2 linked regions of the Homo sapiens genome follow. The protein of the gene in region 1 purifies or fractionates together with the protein of each later gene. This does not show direct contact. Each region holds a gene or a part of one and is shown in the gene's direction. Other genes may lie near its edges. The genes, in order: MAK and KATNIP.

The links.
Region 2: the proteins of MAK (region 1) and KATNIP purify together in Homo sapiens (affinity purification with mass spectrometry; 3 studies listed by BioGRID and IntAct, with this or other methods). This does not show direct contact.

What each region holds. Positions count from the first base shown.
Region 1 is NC_000006.12:10,798,503-10,809,392, reverse strand, and holds part of MAK (serine/threonine-protein kinase MAK), read left to right. Parts: intron 1-450; coding exon 451-583; intron 584-5,501; coding exon 5,502-5,673; intron 5,674-7,333; coding exon 7,334-7,501; intron 7,502-10,890. UniProt on the Homo sapiens protein: Essential for the regulation of ciliary length and required for the long-term survival of photoreceptors. Phosphorylates FZR1 in a cell cycle-dependent manner. Plays a role in the transcriptional coactivation of AR.
Region 2 is NC_000016.10:27,551,530-27,562,419, forward strand, and holds part of KATNIP (katanin-interacting protein), read left to right. Parts: intron 1-2,084; exon of another isoform or gene 2,085-2,104; intron 2,105-10,890. UniProt on the Homo sapiens protein: May influence the stability of microtubules (MT), possibly through interaction with the MT-severing katanin complex.

The sequences.
Region 1 (10,890 bases):
CAGAGCAAGACCTATCTTAAAAACAAAAACACTTCTCACACGTTAATTAGGTGACTTCACTCTGGCCCTCAACCTCCTCCTCTATTGCACAATAGTGATAACAGTACCTCCTTCAGGTTGTTGTGCAAATGAATGGAGATAATCATAGTGTGGTAATACCTAGCCCAGTGCCTGAACACCCACTGGAGTCACAAATAAAAATAAATGTTAAATGGGTGGTTATTTTTAATTATCTCATACACTGTGTGAACTTTCTTGCCAAAGCATTTTAAAAGCAGGGTCCCTACGCCCCATTTACTTCTTAGACAATAAATATGGTTTACTTTTTTCCTAAGATGATGTTTTGAATTATAAAAGAGGGGGTTCATTTATATTTTGTTTATAAATCAAATAAAGCTATGTTTAAACGTAATGATTTACTGTATTTTTTTTTCTCCGTATATCATCAAGGCTTTTTTCATAGGGACATGAAACCAGAAAACTTGCTTTGTATGGGTCCAGAGCTTGTGAAAATTGCTGATTTTGGACTTGCAAGAGAATTAAGGTCACAGCCACCATACACTGATTATGTATCTACCAGATGGTGAGTAGGGGTTATGCAGCCCTCCTGAGGCATAAGCCTATGGTGAAATTTTCCTACGATGGATTGTTACATATTTCTGGAAGTTCCATATTGAATATTTAAAACACAGAATTGAATTTTATATTCTTTAAAGAAAGCGAAGGATTGGTTTATTGCTATTCTGATCACTGAAAAAAAAAGGAAAAAGAATTTCATTTATTCACTCATTCATTCATTCAACAAATATTTATTGAACACCTACTATGTGCCAAACATCATTTTAGGCACAGAGAACACAGCAGTGAAATAAAAAAAGAAAAGAAAAATCTCTGCCTTATGCTGCTTACATGACAGCCAATAGACAGATAAACAAGTTAAAAATATTATGGATCACCAACAGAAAGACATACACGTGTTCACCAGAAGACATGAATCCTCTCTACTGCACGCCACCCAAACGTCCATGAACAGTAGCATCGTATACTCACCCAGTGGAATGCTTTGCAACAATGAGAACGAAGGGTCTATGACTGCATGCAGCAATGTGGACGAATCTTAGACAATGTTGAGATCAAGAGCCCAAAGAGAAAAAGAGCACATACCATATGATTTCATTTATGCAAAGTACAAAAAAAGAGAAAACTAATCTGTGCCATGAAAGTCAGGATAGCAAGCAGTTCTATGGGGTGGGGATGTGTGTAGTGCCTGGACTAGTGCACAAGGGGCCTTCTGGGTGCTGATAGCATGTCTTTCTTTTTTTTTTGAGATGGAGTTTCGCTCTCTCGCCCAGGCTGGAGTGCAATGGCGTGATCTCGGCTCACTGCAACCTCTGCCTCCCGGTTTCAAGTGATTCTCCTGCCTCAGCCTCCCGAGTAGCTGGGATTACAGGCACCCATCACCATGCCCAGCTAATTTTTGTATTTTTAGTAGAGACGTGGTTTCACCGTGTTAGCCAGGCTGGTCTCAAATTCCTGACCTCCGGTGATCCTCCCACCTTGGCCTCCTATGCATAGTGCTGGGATTACAGGCGTGAGCCACCGGGCCCGGCCGATAACATGTCTTTCTTGATCTGGGTGCTGGGTCTGTGGATGTGTTGTATTTGTGAAAATTCATCAAGCTCTACTCTTACAACACATGCCTCTGCCTGTGTGAATATTATACTCCAGTGAAAACAAGAACATATGTGTATCAGGCTGGGCATGGTGGCTCACGCCTGTAATCCCAGCACTTTGGGAGGCCGAGGTGGGGGATCACTTGAGACCAGGAGTTCGAGACCAGCCTGGCCAACATGGCTAAACCCCGTTTCTACTAAAAATACAAAATTAGCCGGGTGTGGTGTCACGCGCCTTGGTGCCAGTTACTTGGGAGGCTGAGGCATGAGAATCACTTGAACCTTGGGGGCAGAGGTTGCAGTGAGCCGAGATTGCGCCACTGAACTCCAGCCTGGGCAACAGAGCAAGACTCTTTCTCAAAAAAAAAAAAAAAAAAAAAAAAGGAATATATGTGTATCAGATGTTGATACATTATTATAAAGAAAAATAAAATAGGAAAGGGGGCAGGGAGTTGGGGGAGATGGGGAGAGAAAGGAATGTTACATGGAGGGTCTGACTGAGAGTAGCCCTGATGGAGATGCCAGGGCCAGCAGGATTTTTTTTAGGCAGAGTAAAAGCCTTGAGACAGGTGCACGCCACACGTGAATTCTGCACAGTGCAGAATGAATAAGGAGGGCAGTCGTAGGAAACAAGGGCAGAGTTTGTAGAGTGGCCAGAAATGATAGTGACTTGGACCTGCTGGCCATGCAGGTAGTGAGAAATGTGGGATTCTAATGAATCAGATGTGGGGGCTGAAAGAAAGGAGTCCGTGTCTTAGTGTGTTTTTTTGTGTTGCTGTAAAGGAACACCTGCGGCTGGGAAGTTGGTAAAGAAAGGAGGTTTATTTGGCTTCCAGTTCTGCAGGCTGTACAAGAAGCATGGCACTGGCATCCGCTTGGCTTCTGATGTGGGTTTTTATGCTGCATCAAAACATGGTGGAGAAGGTCAGGCCGGGCGTGGTGGCTCACACCTGAATCCCAGCACTGTGGGAGGCCAGGACGGGTGGATCACCTGAGGTCAGGAGTTCGAGACCAGCCTGGCCAACGTGGTGAAACCCAGTCTCTACTAAAAATACAAAAATTAGGCCGGGCACAGTGGCTCACGCCTGTAATCCCAGCACTTTGGGAATCCGAGGCAGGTGGATCACGAGGTCAGGAAATCAAGACCATTTTGGCTAACACAGTGAAACCCCGTCTCTACTAAATATACAAAAAAAAAAAAAAAAAAAAAAAAATTAGACGGGTGTGGTGGCGGGCACCTGTAGTCCCAGCTAGTCCCAGCTACTTGGGAGGCTGAGGCAGGAGAATGGCGTTAACCTGGGAGGCGGAGCTTGCAGTGAGCGAAGATCGCGCCACTGCACTCCAGCCTGGGTGACAGAGCAAGACTCTGTCTCAAAAACAAAAAAAATTAGCCAGGCATGGTGGCACATACTTGTAACTTGGGAGGCTGAGGCAGGAGAATCACTTGAACCCGGGAGGTGGAGGTTGCAGTGACCCGAGATCGCGCCATTGCACTCCAGCCTGGGCAACAAGAGCAAAACTCCGTCTCAAAAAAAAAAAAAAGAAAAGATGGCGGGGTGAAGGTCAAAGGGGAAATGGGCACGTGCGAGAAGGGAACAAACAAGAGGAGGAAGCTTGCCGTGGAGCAACCCACTCTCTCAGGAACTAATTTCATCTTGCCTGAAAAAGAACTCATTCACTACGTGAGAACAGCACCAGGCCTTTCATGAGGGATCCGCCCTGGTTACCTGCGAATGTGACCTTATTTTGAAATAGGGTCTTTGCAAATGTAATCAGATTAAGATGAGGTCAGACCACAGCCTGGCTGGTCTTAATCCAGTAAGACTGATGTCCTTATAAAAAGAAGGCAGACAGAGAGATGGAAGAGGGAAGACACGTGAAGGCACCTTGGGAGAAAGCAGTGTGATGTACACTTTAAATGGATCAACTGTATATTATGTGAATTATATATCAATAAAGCTTGTAAAAATATTCGTCAAAGTATAGTAAGTTCTCACTTAACATCATCAGTAGGTTCTTGGAAAGTTTCACTTTAAGTGAAACAACATATGATGAAACCAATTCGACCATAGGCTAATTAAAGTAAACAATTTTATGGCACGTTTCTGGTCACAAAAACATCACCAAACTTCTTTTTTTTTTTTTTTTCCTGTCACCCAGGCTGTAGTGCAGTGGCACGATCTCGGCTCACTGCAACCTCTGCCTCCCGGATTCAAGTGATTCTCCTGCCTCAGCCTCTCGAGTAGCTGAGCTTACAGACGCCCACCACTACACCCAGCTAAGTTTTTGTATTTTTAGTAGAGACGGGGTTTCACCATGTTGGCCAGGCCGGTCTCGAACTCCTGACCTCATGATTCACCCGCCTTGGTCTCCCAAAGTGCTGCAATTACAGGTGTGAGCCACTGTGCCTGGCCACCAAACTTCTAAATAGTGACCAAAACACTAATATTGAACATTGAAATACATGTAAGCTATACATACATTTGAGAAACATTAATAAAAACAAGGAAGATAATTATTCGCCAAGTTATTCTAGTTCAGGGTCACAGGTGGCAACAGCGTGTCCTGGAAGCTGGGGGTGCAAGGTGAGCACCAACCATGGACGGGACAGCCTCCCATGGCAGCACGCCCCCTCCCCACCCCCCCCCCGACACACACATGCACACACTCATCCTGGGGCCACACAGGCACCCCAGTTCACCTGACATGCACATATCTAGGATATGGGAGGAAGCTGGAGTCCTGGAGAAAACTTGTAGACTTGGGGAGAATGTGCAAACCCCACACATTGGCCCAGCCAGAAATGCCTTTCTTTTTTTTTCTTTCTCATCAACATTACAATGAAACAACATTGAGCAAAAACAACAGTGAACAAAACTAGTTTATTTGAGGGCTTGCAGTATTCTCAATGAAAGCAAAAAGACAGTATGCCAAACATTTGGACTGAAATATTTACACATTTTGGTTGGAAAAAAAGAGAATTGAGAGTGTCTTCCATTTAGCAGACTTTGTGTTGGACTCACCAGCTCACTTTGCTCTTGTAAATTGAGTATTTTTCTCAATTAAAAATATTGTTAGGCTGGGTGCAGTGGCTCATGCCTGTAATCTCAGCACTTCGGGAGGCTAAGGCAGGCTGATCACCTGAGGTCAGGAGTTCGAGACCAGCCTGGCCAACATGGGGAAACCCCGTCTCTACTAAAAATACAAAAATTAGCTGGGCATGGTGGTGTGCCCCTGTAATCCCCGCTGCTCGGGAGGCTGAGGCAGGATAATCACTTGAACCCAAGAGGCGGAGGTTGCAGTGAGCCGGGACCGCGCCATTGCACTCCAGCCTGGGCAACAAGAGCAAAACTCCACTCAATAAATATAGTTGACTACAGAAGAGGAGTCAGTTGAGGATATCAGTACTTTCAAACTGATAAAAAAAAACTCCACTACTCAGGATATAATCCTGTTCATCTTTTGTTTTCTGTGCTTCCTTGTGAATAGATGCTGAATATAATGCTTTGTAACATAGTTTTTCTACTTTTTTTCTTAATATATCAGATGGCACTTATTTCCATATCTATTCAGTTGAGTTCCTGTCTTAGGCTTGATGGACATTTCATAGACATTTGTCTCCAGCCCCACTCATTGTCTGTGATCAGGGAACATGTGTTGTGTCCTATTATCCCCAGAACATTGTACAAATGCCTGACACACAGATGGAACAGGGTCTGAATACCTGTTCCTTGATGGAAATGCATGACCACACAGCGTAGAATGCTACTGCCCATCCACCTTTGAAATTGCAATCAAAATTACCTCTTTTGTTCTCTATTTTCATAGGTATCGTGCCCCTGAAGTTTTACTGAGATCTTCAGTTTATAGTTCTCCCATTGATGTGTGGGCTGTTGGAAGTATCATGGCTGAACTCTATATGTTAAGGCCACTTTTCCCAGGGACAAGTGAGGTCGATGAAATCTTTAAAATTTGCCAAGTTTTAGGGACTCCCAAAAAAGTAAGTACTCTTGTCCCTAAGTTGCTATAACTTTTGATTATTTCTATCTTGCTACTTTGCTTTTAATTTTATAATTTTGATTATTTACAACTTTTGCCTAGATATCTGATATTTTCATTTTGAAATAGGCTCATACTTTAATGATTAATTTTCTTATAATTCTTTTTTTTTTTTTGAGATGGAGTCTTGCTCTGTTGCCCAGGTTGGAGTGCAGTGGCTCAATCTCAGCTCACTGCAACCTCCACCTCCCAGGTTTAAGCAATTCTCATGCCTCAGCCTCCCAAGTAGCTGGGATTACAGGTGTGCACCACCACGCCTGGTCAATTTTTCTATTGTTAGTAGAGAGGAGATTTCACCATGTTGGCCAGGCTGGTCTTGAACTCTTGAGCTCAAGCGATCTGCGATCTGCCCACCTCAGCCTCCCAAAGTGCTGGGATTACTTGGTGTGAGCCACCACGCCCGGCTGTAATCCTTATTTTTTTAATCGGAGTGGGTTAAGGATTGCAAGAAGCCAGAATCCCACCAGCTGAAGAAAAACAGGTGCTTGCCTTTCCTTAAGAACTTCAGGAAAAATTCTGTGTGTTTAGAGTGTAACTTGGGGGTGATGCCCAGCTGACACTGTACAGACAGCCTTGCTTGAGCTCTTTCCTGCTCATTCTGTGGCTGGCCATTGGCATCACCTGTTAACCCCTGGTGTCTTGAACCTTGTTTTTTCTTAACCGTTTCTTGTTTCCTTTTTTATATCTCCCCTGTGGATATTTGACTTCTTGAACTGAGTGCTTTTCAATTAACTATATTTCATCTACACCTTTCTTTCTGAAATGTGCTTTATAAGTGTGTATATAATGACATCCTAATTAAATTAGTAAGTGCCTTGTAGTTAACATTACACAAGTAAATGTAGATATTAAAGCTTTAATGTAATTGTCATTTCCCAGATATGTGCATTTTTAACATTGTATGCAATGGGTAATATACACGACAAGGATCTTTGTTCACAGTCAGCCTCTTTGTAAAGCACTTTTCCTTATTTGTTCAGAGTTAACCCAGGTATCATCACAGCAACATCACCATCAGGATCTAAAACCAGACAAGAGCTTAATATTGCAAAATTTATAAAGGCGGGCATGGTGGCTCATGCCTGTAGTCCCAGCACTTTGGGAAGCCCAGGCAGGAGGATCACTTGAGCCCAGGAGTTCAAGACCAGCCTGGGCAACATAGTGAAACCCCGTCTCCACAAAAAAAAATTAGCCAGGTGTGATGGTGCGCACCTGTAGTCCCAGCTACTCAGGAGTCTGAGGTAGGAGGATCTTTTGAGCCCGGGAGGGTGAGGCTGTAGTGAGCCATGATTGCTCCACTGCACTCCAACCTGGATAACAGAGCCAGATCCTGTCTCAAAAAAAACACAAAAAAACAAACAAAAAAAAGCTATAAAAGTGCTTTTCGCATTGTTTCCTAACTCTCAGCTTAATGTTCTTTCTATACTGTCGTAGCACTAAATTATAGACGTGGTCTGGTATTTCATTTTCATGTTTATATGGATCAACATGAAAATGTTCAAACATAAATGATGTTTATATTACTGCTGTGTTTTTTAAATGGATTACTAAAAACAATTTGTTTTGCCCTCCCCACCTGCACTTATATATTCCTGAAACAGAGTGACTGGCCAGAAGGATACCAGCTGGCATCCTCTATGAACTTCCGTTTTCCCCAGTGTGTTCCTATAAACTTAAAAACTCTTATTCCCAATGCCAGTAATGAAGCTATTCAGCTCATGACCGAAATGTTGAATTGGGATCCAAAGAAACGACCGACAGCAAGCCAGGTAAGAGGAGTCTTCCTGTTAGACCTTTAAAAATGTTTAGGTTTTGTAATATCAGGGATGTTTTCATTTACAAAGGCAGGTCTATTCTCAACCAGGATTTTACTAAGAGAATTAAACACAAAGTCCTAGGCATCCAGCGTATGTAATAAATTAATTTCTAGGCATATAATATCATTGGGAGAAATGCAGAAATAGCCACACCAATGATTTTCTGAGTTTTGTGGTTCAAATGAAGAACCCTGAGGTTGCAACAAGGAATCAATCTGCAATGATAAAAATTCAGACCTGCGACAGACTAGTTATGAAGGAATCTGTCATGGAAGCAAAAAGGCATCTCATGAATCATTCCACATAGTAGACTTTCCTATGCTGCCTTTACAGTTTAGGGGTGGGATTCTGGTTCACTTTATACAACAGTATCATCCCTTGCTGGGACTGGAGTGTGCAGCCTCTGGCTGCCACAAGAGGGCAGCATTGTGGCACCCAGGCTTTGTTCCTTTGTGACTACACCTGACATATCTACAGATGTATTCCAAGTCTAGGGCCTTTAAACCCAGTGTTTTTGTCTGCAAGGCTTCAATAAAAAGGCAATAATAAACTTTATTGTATTCTCATCATTTAAATATAAATTCCATGTGAAAATTACAAAAATTTATTTTGCTTTTTTTAAAATTAATCTTGAGAAAATGTTTTCTAAATGTCATCTGGAAGAACAAATGGGAAAGGATAGTCAAGATATGTTAAAACAAGAATAAGGAATTAGAGAGCGGTGATAGGGATGGACAGCTTGCCCCATCAGATATTAAAGTAATCTTTAAATTGATGATGGTAACAGTGGAAGTACTGGCATAAGAATTGACAAATAGCTGAATGTTGCAGAACATATGAGTCAGCACAAGGTAAACAAACGTGGCATCACAAAGAGGGGAGGACGGCTCAGTGGGTGATACTGGGAAAATTCATTAGCTCTTAGGGAAAAAAATAAATTGAGGTCCTTACTGCTCACCATACTTTACAACTCACAGAAGGGTTACATTTTGTTGTTGTTGTTGAGATGGAGTTTCACTCTTGTTGCCCAGGCTGGAGTGCAATGGCATGATCTCGGCTCACCGCAACCTCTGCCTCCTGGGTTCAAGTGATTCTCCCACCCTCAGCCTCCCGAGTAGCTGAGATTACAGGCATGAGCCACCACGCCTGGCTAATTTTGTATTTTTAGTAGAGACAGGGTTTCTCCATGTTGGTGAGGCTGGTCTCGACCTCCCAACCTCAGGTGATCTGCCCTCCTTGGCCTCCCAAAGTGCTGGGATTACAGGTGTGAGCCACCGCGCCCGACCAGGATTACATTTTCAAAGTGTAAAAAAAAAAGCACCCTAAACTGTTAGAAACAAAAGGAAAGCATACATGTGTATTTGATCTCAAGGTGAAAAAACACGGGTATAAAAATAATAGAAGAAACCACAAAAGGAAGATTCAAACAATTTGATTACATAAAAAGTAAAATTTTTCTCTATGTAAAAATCTTAAAATGGAAAGATAAGACAGAGAAAATTATTTTTAATTCTTAATATAATACTCCTACAGAAACACAAGAAAAATACTGAAATGTGTATGTGTATTTTCTTTTTTTTTTGAGATGGAGTTTCTGTTGCCCAGGCTGGAGTGTAGTGGCATGATCTCCACTCACTGCAACCTCCGCCTCCTGGGTTCAGGCGATTCTCCTGCCTCAGCCTCCCGAGTTGCTGGGATTGCAGGTGCCCGCCACCACGCTTGGCTTATTTTTGTATTTTTGTAGAGACCAGAGGGGTTTTTTTGTTTAGTTTTTTTTTGTTTTTGTTTTTGTTTTTGAAACGGAGTCTCGCTCCATCGCCCAGGCTGGAGTGCAGTAGCGTGATCTCGGTTCACTACACCCTCCGCCTCCCAGATACAAGCAATTCTTCTGTCTCAGCCTCCCTAGTAGCTGGGACTACAGGTGCCTGCCACCACACCTGGCTAATTTTTGTATTTTTAGTAGAGATGGGGTTTCACCTTGTTGGTCAGGCTGATCTTGAACTCCTGACCTTAGGTGATCCACCCACCTCGGCCTCCCTAAGTTCTGGGATTACAGGAATGTGCCACTGTGCCTGGCCAGAGACGGAGTTTTACCATGTTGGCCAGGCTGCTGTTGATCTCCTGACCTCAGGTGATCTGCCTGCCTTGGCCTCCCAAAGTGCTGGGATTACAGGCATGAACCACTGTGCCCAGCCGTTTAAGTGTATTTTCTAATTTTTCTTTTTTAAAATTTTTTGAAAGTTTTGTTTCTTTAAAGATGGGGTCTTACTATGTTGTCCTGACTGGTCTCAAACCCCTGGTCTCGTGCAGTTCTCCTGCCTTGGCCTCCCAAAGTGCTGAAATAATATAGGCGTGAGCCACCACACCTGGCCCATATTTTCTAATTTTTCTAAACATTCATTACCTTCATAATAAAGACATAATAAGTTTTTCAAATGTATTTTAAAAAGAAAAGTAGTAATGGGACATGAAAAAGAAACACAGGAAAAGAAATACAGATTACAAAAAATATTTTTTAAATGTTCAGTCTTTGTTTACTATTATAAAATGCAAGTAGAAATGAGATACCGTTTTTCATTTATCTCTCTTAGTAAGAGAAAGTAATTTTGTAGTATATAAAAAGAGCCTTGAAGACAATCAGAAATTATGCTCAAAGATGTTCAATTCCAATAGAAAACTGTACATTGAAAGTTAATCAAAATGTTTCCAACCATGTGCGGTGGCTCTGCAGTGCCGCACACCTGTAATCCCAGCACTTTCCGAGGCAGGCGGATCACTTGAGGTCAGGAGTTTGAGATCAGCCTGGCCAACGTGGCAGAACCCCATCTCTACTAAAAATACAAAAAATTAGCTAGGCATGGTGACACACACCTGTAATCTCAGCTACTCGGGAGGCTGAGGCAGAAGGATAGCTTGAACCCAGGAGGCGGAGGTTGCAATGAGCCAAGATCGTGCCACTGCACTCCAGCCTGGGTGACAGAGTGAGACTCTGTCTCAAAAATAAATAAATAAATAAATAAATAAATAAATAAATAAATAAATAATGTTTCTAAACTTAGGTTATGTGCATCTTTAATTTGGAATATACTGCCAGCATTAACAGTGAATTTGTAAAATAAAATTTTTAAATAATTTGGGAGAAATCTCATGCTAAAATACTATTATACAAATAATATGATTTTGTTTTTGAAAAATATATTTTATATGATGAGAAAAAAATACCGAAAAGTATAAAAAATGTTAGTCTTGGTTGTCTCTGGGTGTTAAATTTTTATTTTTGTCTTGAGAACTCTATACGTTTCTCATTCTCTACAATGATCACTGCTTCCCTTAAGTAAATA
Region 2 (10,890 bases), on another chromosome or scaffold:
TACCATATCGAAGATTTAAACTGGGAAAATCTTAAGATGTCCATTAATTAGTTCCTTTAAAAATAATAAAAATTGGGCCGGGCATGGACTCGTGCCTGTAATCCTAGCACTCTGGAAGGCCAAGGCAGGTGGATCACTTGAGGTCAGGAGTTCGAGACCAGCCTGGCCAACATGGTGAAACCTTGTCTCTACTAAAACTTAGCCGGACGTGGTGACACATGTCTGTAATCCCAGCTACTTGGAAGGCTGAGGCAGGAGAATCATTTGAAGCCGAGATCTTGCCACTGCACTCCAGCCTGGGCAACAGGGCGAGACTCTGTCTCAAAAAAACCCAATAATAATAATAATAATTGGCCAGGTGCAGTGGCTCATAATAATCATAATAATAATTGGCCATGTGCAGTGCCTCACACCTGTGATCCCAGCAGTTTGGGAGGCTGAAGTGGGTGGATTGCTTGAGCTCAGGAGTTCAAGACCAGCCTGGGCAACATAGCTAGACCCTGTCTCAAAAAAACTCCAACAACAATAAACCCATTACTTCTGAACATAAATAATATTTTTAATGGAAAACAATTACATTTGCCTCCAAAAAATTAATAGGAAGAGTAGCATTATTTTATGTTTTTTCAAGTTTATTCAATAGAAATAGAAAAAACTACTCTCATTTCTGCTTCAGGATTCAAACTGTTTTTTGTTATGCTGTTTTGGCTGGTGTGTATGAAGAAAATTTGGCCTCATACAAATATATAATTGGAGCAGAGAGAAACATTTTAATTGCCTTTTCAGATAACTGTAGACACTCTCCTTTCATACTATACAAAATTTAGCAAATGCCAGTTTCTTTTTTCTTTTTTTTTTTTTTTTTGAGAAAAAGTCTCACTGTCGCCCAGGCTGGAGTGCAGTGGCACGATCTCAGCTCACTGCAACCTCTGCCTGCTGGGTTCAAGCGATTCTCCTGCCTCAACCTCCCGAGTAGCTGGGATCACAGGTGTGAACCACCATGCCCAGCTAATTTTTTTTATTTTTAGTAGACATGGGGTTTCCCCATGTTGGCCAGCTGGTCGCAAACTCCTGACCTCAGGTGATCAGCCTGCCTCCATTTCCCAAAGTGCTGGGATTACAGACGTGAGCCACCATGCCTGGCCTGCAAGTGGCAGTTTTTTTTTTTTTTTTTTTTTTTTGAGACGGGAGTTTTGCCGTCGTTGCCCAGGCTGGAGTGCAATGGCCTGATCTCGGCTCACCGCAACCTCCGCCTCCCGGGTTCAAGCGATTCTCCTGCCTCAGCCTCCCAAGTAGCTGGGATTACAGGCATGTGCCACCACGCTCAGCTAATTTTGTACTTTTAGTAGAGATGGGGTTTCTCTATGTTGGTCAGGCTGGTCTCAAACTGCCAACCTCAGGTGATCCGCCCGCCTTGGCCTCCCAAAGTGCTGGGATTACAGGCATGAAGAACCATGCCAGGCCACAAGTGGCAGTTTCTTAAATGTTAGTCACAGTGTGTCATCTGAAGCCTTATAGGTGAACTTTTATACTGTGTTACATTAAAATCCATTGGTCTATCTTGCCCTTTCATTGGCTGCTTTACCCATATATGGTTTTATAACATCAGCCATTGGTCGTTTAGAAAATGTTGGTTCAGTGAGTTATGCAAATCTAAACGTTGACCTTTCAGATGCCATTATACGGTATTTAAAAAATCACATTTGTTAATATCACCACCTATTTCATTTTAAAAAGGAGTTTAAGTATTAGGAAACTATCAAACTCAAGGTAATGGAAACAAGTTTTCAACTTGTTTTCACTTGACAGCTTGAATTTTAACATTGGCAGCAAATATTGTCAGCTGTTTCCTTGAAGTGACAGACTCACTTATTTCATATTTGAGAAAATTTCTGCCAAATTCCCAAGACTGAATAACCAAAATTTGTCTATTATTTTATTTACTGCCATGTACTCACATTTAAAACAAACAAACAATTATTTTTATTTAAGAATGTCCTGATGGTTGGGTTCAGTGGCTCACGCCTATAGTCCCACCGCTTTGGGAGGCCAAGACAAGAGGATCTCTTCAGCCCAGAAATTCAAGACCAGCTTCGTCAACATAGTGAGACTCCATCTCTACTAAATAAATAAATAAAATAAATAAATAAATAAATAATAGTCAGGCATGGTAGCATGCACCTGTGGTTCTAGCTGCTAAGGAGACTGAGGTGTGGGGATCACTTGAGCCCAGGAGGTCAAGACCAGCCTGGGCAACTTAGTGAGACCCCATCTCTGTAAAAAGTAAAAAATTAGACAGGTATAGTGGCTCGTGCCTGTAGTCCCAGCCACTCAGGATCAGTTGAGCTTAGGAGGTTGAGGCTACAGTGAGCCATGACTGTGCCACTGCACTCCAGCCTGGGCAAAAAGACCTTGTCTAGAGAGAGAGAGAGCAGGGGGTGGGGTGGGGGGAGAGAGGAGAGAGAAAGGAAGGAAGGAAAGAAGGGAGGGAGAGGAGAGAGAAAGGAAGGAGGAAAGAAGGGAGGGATGGAAGAAGGGAGGGAGGAAGGAAGGAGGGAAGGTTTCTAGTACATTGTGGTAACATTGCCTTGATTCAGACTGCAAGCAGTTTTACCCACCATTGCTTTGTGTCATAAGTACAAATGTCAACACAGCCAGATGGGGTGGCTCACGCCTGTAATCCCAGCACTTTGAGAGGCCAAGGTGGGCGATCACCTGAGGTCGGGAGTTTGAGACTAGCCTGGCCAACATGGTGAAACCCTGTCTCTACTAAAAATACAAAAATTAGCTGGGCATGGTGGCACATAACTGTGGTCCCAGCTACTTGGGGGAGGCTGAGGCAAGAGAATCGCTTGAACCCAGGAGGCAGAGGTTGCAGTGAGCCAAGATCATGCCACTGTATTGCAGCCTGGGCAACAGAGTGAGACTGTCTCAAAAGAAAAAAAATTCAACACAGTGAAATACTCTTCAAATTATGATTAAAATACTTTTGTCTTTGTGGACCCCTCCTTCTCCCAGGATCTGCACCTTTGAGAAACATTGCTACAGTCCATTTTCAGGAAGGCTGCTTTGTGCCTTCTAATGAGCATCTCTGTACTTGCAGTCTTAGGACGTTATTGTAGCCTAGTAGAGGGGTATGTTCATTTTCAGATTGGCCCCCAAAAGGAAAAATTTATTCTCAGAAGTGTTTACCCTAGGGTCATATTTGACCTCCAAAGAATCCCATTTTCTGTTCTGATTTTTTAAACTTTGATTTACACTTTTTTTTTTTTTTTTTTTTTTGAGACAGAGTCTCGCCCTGTCACCCAGGCTGTAGTACAGTGGCGTGATCTTGGCTCACTGCAACCTCTGCCTCCCAGGTTCAAGCGATTCTCTTGCCTCAGCCTCCTGAGTAGCTGGGATTACAGGTGCACGCCACCACGCCTGGCTAACTTTTTTGTTTTTTGTTAGTAGAGATGGGGTTTCACCATGTTGGTCAGGCTGGTCTCGAACTCCTGACCTCAGGTTATCCACCTGCCTCAGCCTCCCAAAGTGCTGGGATTATAGCCATGAGCCACCGCACCTGGCCCTGATTTATACATAATTTTATAGGCACATACCTATTTATTGGATAAAGTGAAGCATACCTTATTGTGATTCTAACTAACTAGGTAAGCCAAGCCTGGCCTTATTAGAAAGATGTTTACTTCCTACGTTCACAAAAGCTTAAATGTCTAGCAGATGCCCTCCAAACTGGACTGTAATTTAGTTTATTCGGCATGTCTTAATCACCATAGCTTTTCACAACCCTTTCCCTGGCCTTTTGATTTTGACTTTGGGCAGGTCCTATCTGTTTCTGTGATGCAGTGTAATGTCCTTAGGTTTGGGGGCCAGATAGCCCTGGATTTGAATCTCTGCTGTACACTTTGACCTCTCTGAGCCTTGGTTTTCCTGTCAGTAAAATGGACATGATAATGAAGCCTACCTTGTTTTGTGGCTTCAATGAAACAATGCATCAAGTCTGGCATATAAAAAAATGTTCCTGGCTGGGCGCGGTGGCTCACGCCTGTAATCCCAGTACTTTGGAAGGCCGAGGCAGGCAGATCACCTGAGATCAGAAGTTCGAGACCAGCCTGACCAACATGGAGAAACCCTGTCTCTACTAAAAAAATGCAAAATTAGCTGGGTGTGATGGTGCATGCCTGTAATCCCAGCCACTTGGGGGGCTGAGGCAGGAGAATCGCTTGAATCTGGGAGGCAGAGGTTGTGGTGAGCCGAGATTGCGCCATTGCACTCCAGCCTGGGCAACAAGAGCGAAACTCCGTCTCAAAAAAAAAAAAAGTTCCTACAGCCAGGCGCGGTGGCTCATGCCTGACTTTGGGAGGCTGAGATGGGTGGATCACGAGGTCAGGAGTTCAAGACCAGCCTGGCCAAGATGGTGAAATCCTGTCTCTACTAAAAATACAAAAATTAGCCAGGTGTGGTGGCGGGTGCCTGTAATCCCAGATACTCGGGAGGCTGAGGCAGAGAATTGCTTGAACCTGGGAGGCGGAGGTTGCAGTGAGCTGAGATTGCACCACCGCACTCTAGCCTGGGCCAGTGAGTGAGACTCTGTCTCAAAAAAAAAAAAAAAGTTCCTATATAGTAGCTGTTGTTATCATTATCTGCAAATAGGCAGACTTATTCCACACAGTTGACAGAAGAGGGAAGCGTGCTGATGAAGCTCTCTAGCAGATGATAACTTTTGTAATTAGCACACTCTTTGCTTAAGAGAAAATCCAATGTTTGACATTTTTTATTCCATGAAGGTACATTGGCAGTGTGTGTTTTCTGCCTATGAAAATGTTCGCCTTTCTGTTAAAGTTGAATTTTCCCCAGTACTTTAAAAATATGAAATGGTTTAGGAAAAAAAATTCTATTTCATTTTCAAGGAACATAATAATTAGACAAAAGTTCAGCACATTGATATAATTAGAAAGGATTTGGAAGTTGTTCATTTGCTTTTCACTGCTCCCCTAGAGCAAATATTCAACATTTCCCTTGTTTATACTGTTCATTTGCTTAGCAAACTTTCTCAAATAATTAATAATGCCAAGATGATATTTAGCCTCACTTGTCCAAATAATCCCAGACTGCAAACAGGTGATGGTTGAATTAGGAAGGTTTTGCTGAGAGTACACCATCGGTTTAGCTGGTCTCTCCTGTCCTTGTGTGGTATTTACCTGGCTTCTTGGTGATTTGTCTGTTTCTCTTACTACTTAAACCCAGCAAAAAAAATAATAAAATAACAATCAAATGCAATAAAACAAAGCAAGCATTCAGCAGGTGAAATAAACATACATCCCATAGACTCTTTGTGTCTGTTCTGTTTTCTTCTTGTTCCAATCCTTCTATCTGATTAGTTTCTTTTCTCTCAGATTTTTTCAGAGTTCGTTCCTCCTGTCACTTTAACTTATAGGAAGTCGGCCCATAATGTTTTGCTTATTTTTCCTTATGAGATTCATTCCATGATTCAACATTTCAGTGCCTTCCGTGCATTGGAATTCAGAGATGCCAAAATGAGTAAGATTGAATCCAGGTGAAGGCGATATGGGAATTCATTGTACTATTCTTGACATTTTTCTGTGAAGTTGATTTTTTTTTTTTTTTTTGAGGTGGAGTCTCACTTTGTAGCCCAGGCTGGAGTACAGTGGCGCGATCTTGGCTTACTGCATCCTCCGCCTCCCGAGTTCCAGTGATTCTGCTGCCTCAGCCTCCTGGGTAGCTGGGATTACAGGCACATGCCACCACGCCCAACTAATTTTTGCATTTTTAGTACAGACGGGGTTTCACCATGTTGCCCAGGCTGGTCTCGAACTCCTGACCTTAGGTGATCCAACCCTACCCCTTGGCCTCCTAAAGTGCTACGGTTACAGGTGTGGATTTTTTTTTTTTTTTTTTTGAGACAGAGTCTTGCTCTGTTGCCCAGGCTGGAGTGCAATGGTGAGATAACTCACTGGTGCGTCCATCTCCTGGCTCAAGCGATCGTCCCATGTCAGCTGTCCAAGTAGCTGGGACTACAGGTGTGTGCCACCATGCCCAGCTAATTTTTTATTTTTTGTGGAGATGGGGGTCTTGCTATGTTGTCCAGGCTGGTCTCCATCTCCTGAGCTCAAGTGATCCTCCCACCTTGGCCTCCCAAGTTGCTAAGATTACAGGCATGAGCCACTATGCCTGGCTGGAAATGAATTCTTTATATCAGAGCTTGCACAAGTGGGCTGAAACAGCCCACATGCATGTTTATTTGGCTCATAATGTTTTGTTTTTTAAATTTTTGAATTAGTTGTCAACATTGAAAAATGAGCAGATTTCTTATAAATACCTGATTGTGGTATTTTCTTGAAAATATCAATAAAGTCTGTTAACACCAAATCAGAATTCTGCATGGCAACAATTGTCCCACCACCCGAGTTAAGTGGAGACTTTGCCCTTTAAGAGGGAGGTGGGCCTGTCTAATGACTGGCTTCTCTCATTGTGTCTGTCACTCCTAGGCCTGTCAGCATTTGTACTTAGAATTCTACTTTAGTATTAACTTGTACAGTTGTGAAAACTCCTGTGGACTTCCTTGTATGCCATACTGGACTATACTTATTCTTTTTGTTTGTTTTTTTGTTTTTAGATAGAGTCTTGTTCTCTCACCCAGGCTGGAGTGCAGTGGTGCGATCTCAGCTCACTACAGCCTCTGCCTCCTGGGTTCCAGTGATTCTCCTGCCTCAGCCTCCTAAGTAGCTGGGATTACAGGTGTGTGCCACCACACCTGGCTAATTTTTGTATTTTTAGTAGGGATGGGGTTTCATATGTTGGCCAGGCTGGTTTCGAACTCCTGACCTCAAGTGATCTGCCTGCCTTGGCCTCCCAAAATGCTGGGATTACAGGCATGAGTCACCATGCCCAGTTTCTTTTTGTTTTAATCTGAAAAAAAGGGAATATATTATCTGCCTTTAGAAACTTCATAGTATGGTGAGAAAGCAGACATAAACAGATGACTACATTTCAACATGGGAGTCCTTAGAAGATAATATTTGTAGAGGTCTTCCCCTTTCCCAAAGCAGTGTGGCCCACTGCCTGCTATTGTAAATAAAGTTTTATTGGAATGCAGCAGCACCCTTTCACATACATATAGTCCATGGCTGTTTTCTTGCAGAGTTGAGTAGTTGTAAAAGAGACTTATGTGGCCCACGGGCCAAAAATATTTACTATCTGGGCCTGTACAGGAAACGTTTGCTGACTGTTGCCGTGGCAGATCTGATTTGATTCCTGAGACAGCTCAATGGGATACTGTGATTGTGTCTGTTTTATACCACACACCTAGTAGGTAGCAGAGCCAGGACTCAGTCGAATAAGGTCTACACTTGGTAGTATGTTATGGAAGGCCCATTTCAGCCTTGTTACTGCCAGTGTGTGGCCAGGTTCTCACACCTGGAGAGTGAGTCTGTGGGGAAGAACTGGCCACTGGGCTGATGGAATAATATACATTTTGAAAGGTACCCGTTTTGACTACATTCCCAGCTCCCTCAGCATCTGGTCCCATGACTGCTTCTCTCTTTCCAAATGGGAGTAGGCTAATGCAGAGCAATGTGGTTGGTTGCAAGGAAGAACTTGAAACTGTTTGCAGAGCACTTTATGTAAAAGTAAGAAAGTGTGACTACTGATGTCCCATGGGGCTTTGCAGCTTTAACAATTGCCCTATGGATCATATCACCTTGAAGTATAGAATTTCTCTGGGGAATTAGCTCCCCTCCAGTCTCATCTTTTTAGACACTTGCCTACCTGCTCTCACACCCAGAGGTTTTACACTGCGCTGTACAGTGTCTATCAATATGTTTTTCCATATTCAAAAATAGTGATTTCAGGCCAGGCATGGTGGCTCATGCCTGTAGTCCTAGCACTTTGGGAGGCTGAGGCAGGAGGATCAGTTGAGCCCAGGAGTTTGAGATCAGCCTGGGCAACACGGTGAGACCCCACCTCTACAAAAAATTGTTAAAAATTATTTGGGCATGTTGACACATGCCTGTGGTTTCAGCTACTCGGGAGGCTGAGGTGGGATCACCTTAGCCCAGGAGGTTGAGACTACAGTGAGCTGTGATCATGCCACTGCACTCTAGCCTGGGCAACAGAGCAAGACCCTGTCTCAAAAAAAAAAAAAAAATAGTAAGGTCATGGTGGCTCATACCTATAATCTCAGCACTTTGGGAGGCCGAGGCAGGCGGATCACTTGAGGTCAGAAGTTTGAGAACAGCCTGGCCAACATGGTGAAACCCCGTCTCTAGTAAAAATACAGAAATTAGCCAGGCATGGTGGCACCTGCCTATAATCCCAGCTTCCTGGGAGACTGAGGTGGGAGAATCATTTGAATCCAGGAGGCAAAGGTTGCAGTGAGCCTAGATCGCGCCACTGCACACCAGCCTGGGCGACAGAGCGAGACTCTGTATAAAAAAAATAAATAAATAAAAAATCCAGGTGTGGTGGCTCACGCCTGCAATCCCAACACTTTGGGAGACTGAGGCGGGCAGATCACGAGGTCAGGAGTTCAAGACTAGCCTGGCCAACATGGTGAAACCCCGTCTCCACTAAAAATACAAAAATTAGCCGGGCGTGGTGGCGGGTGCCTGTAATCCCAGCTATTCAGGAGGCTGAGGCAGGAGAATCGCTTGAACCTGGGAGGCAGAGGTTGCAGTGAGCTGAGATCGCGCCACTGCAGTCCAGCCTGGGCTATAGAGTGAGACTCTGTCTCAGAAAAAAAAAAAAAAAAAAAAAAGGTAATTTCACATAAGAACCTGGACTTCTCAGTCTCTTGATAAACAGGGTGCTTTGGGCCCTCAGCACTTTCTTGTCACGTAGCTCTGGTCCTCTAGCACTGAACAGTGGCCACCCCCTTGACCTGGGACATGTGCTGATGACCCCTTCTGGCTGGTGTTACCTGTCATCTGGTGCTCACTTCTTCCATTGATCATATTGGCCTCCTTTGCAGGCATCTGAGATTTCAATGCCAGCCCGAGACACTTGGGGAGGTTGGCCATCTCTGGAGTACACCGTCTTCTTTCGCACCTCGCTGCCTTGCCTGTGCTGTGTTCCCTGCCAGCTGTGCCCTTCTTTCAAGTCACTTCCACACTGTAAATTGCAGTGACCAGCACCACCTGCAGAATTAGCTACTCCCCCATGGCAGGACCCCATAGCTAGTCAGGCATTGTGTTGTATCACAGGGACGAGCTCTATGCTTTTCTCCCTCTTTGAGGGTAGAGACTCACTTCTTTCCTTTGTATGCCCAGCACCTGGCACAAGGACTGGCACAGGCAGATCCCATGAGTGTTTGCTGGGTTGACACTGTAACCAGGAAAGAGATTAACGGATTTGTTCCCTAGTGAATTGCTGGACATTCTCCATAAAGTAGACAAAGGAAAGGGCCTTGTAGCCAAGCTTCCAGGCCAAGCTTCCAGGGACCGTGGCTGCATCCTTTTTGTCTTTTTTTTTTCTTTTTTTTCAAGACAGAGTCTCGCTGTGTCACCCAGGCTGGAGTGCAGTGGTGTGATCTTGGCTCACTGCAACCTCCGCCTCCTGGGTTCAAACAATTCTCCTGTCTTAGCCTCCCAAGTAGCTGGGACTACAGGCGCCCACCACCATGCCTGTCTAATTTTTGTATTTTTTTTTTTTTTTCAGTAGGGACGGGGTTTCACCATATTGGTCAGGCCGGTCTTGAACTCCTGATCTTAGATAATCCACCTGCATCGGCCTCCCAAAGTGTTGGGATTACAGGCGTGGGCCACTTTGCCTGGCCTGGTCCTTTTTCTCTAGTGGACACATATGGTTTCCCCAGACAACCCAGTCCTCATACTATTCCCGCTCCTAGCTTCCTTTCCTGTTCCCCGCAGCTGCTTCCTCTGCTCTCCCATTAGCATTCCTGTCCTGGCCCAATTTCGTTTCCTAGTGAAGTCACTTTCTCTCCCAGCTCCCACTTCACTTCAGAGCCCACTGCTACCTTGACCACCCTTAGCAGTGGACCCTCTGATTTAACATGTCCTTTGGGGAGAGGAAAGTTATGGGTAAACGTAGCGCCTGGCAGGAAGTCAGAGCGCTACAGATATCTGGTTACCTGCAGGGCCCACCACATTTTTCTAAACTCTAAGTGAACCTGCAATGCAGTGTGTGGTGTGTGTGTATGTGTGTGTGTGTTTTCCCTGTAACGAGTCCCAAACTATTTAGAAACATTTCATGAACTCTCTAATGTCACAAAAGTTAGAGTTGGAAGGAACTTGACAGATGTCGCCTAGGGTCTCATTTTGGGGACTCTGAAGTATCTTAGAACCGTGAAGTTCCCTTGCAGGGGTCACACATTTAGAGGCCTGCAGGGGCCAGGTAATGTAAATGACTGTCCTGGCCAGAGTTTATTTCATTATGCTGCTTGTGTCAGTTTCCAACACCTAAATACACATTGCATACCCAAGAATATTCTTCAGTTTCATAAAGAAATCTGTTGTCAGCCAGGGGCAGTGGCTCATGCCTGTAATCCCTGTACTTTGGGAGACTGATGCAGGAGGACTGCTTGAACTCAGGAGTTTGAGACCATCCTGGGCAATATGGCAGACCCCGGCTTTACCAAAAAATGTTATAAATTAGCTGGGCTTGGTGGCACATGCCTGTAGTCCCAGCTCCTTGGGAGGCTGAGGTGGGCGGATCACTGAAGCCCAGAAGGTTGAAGTTATTATGGTGAGCCATGACCACACCACTTTGACTCCAGCCTGGCCGACAGAGTGAGACCCTATCTCAAAAAAATAATAATGGTGATAATAATAATAGGACCTTCCCATAAGGCTGCTAGGAGAATCAAATGAATTCATCCATCTAAAACCCTTAGAACAGGGCCTGGTGCTTGGT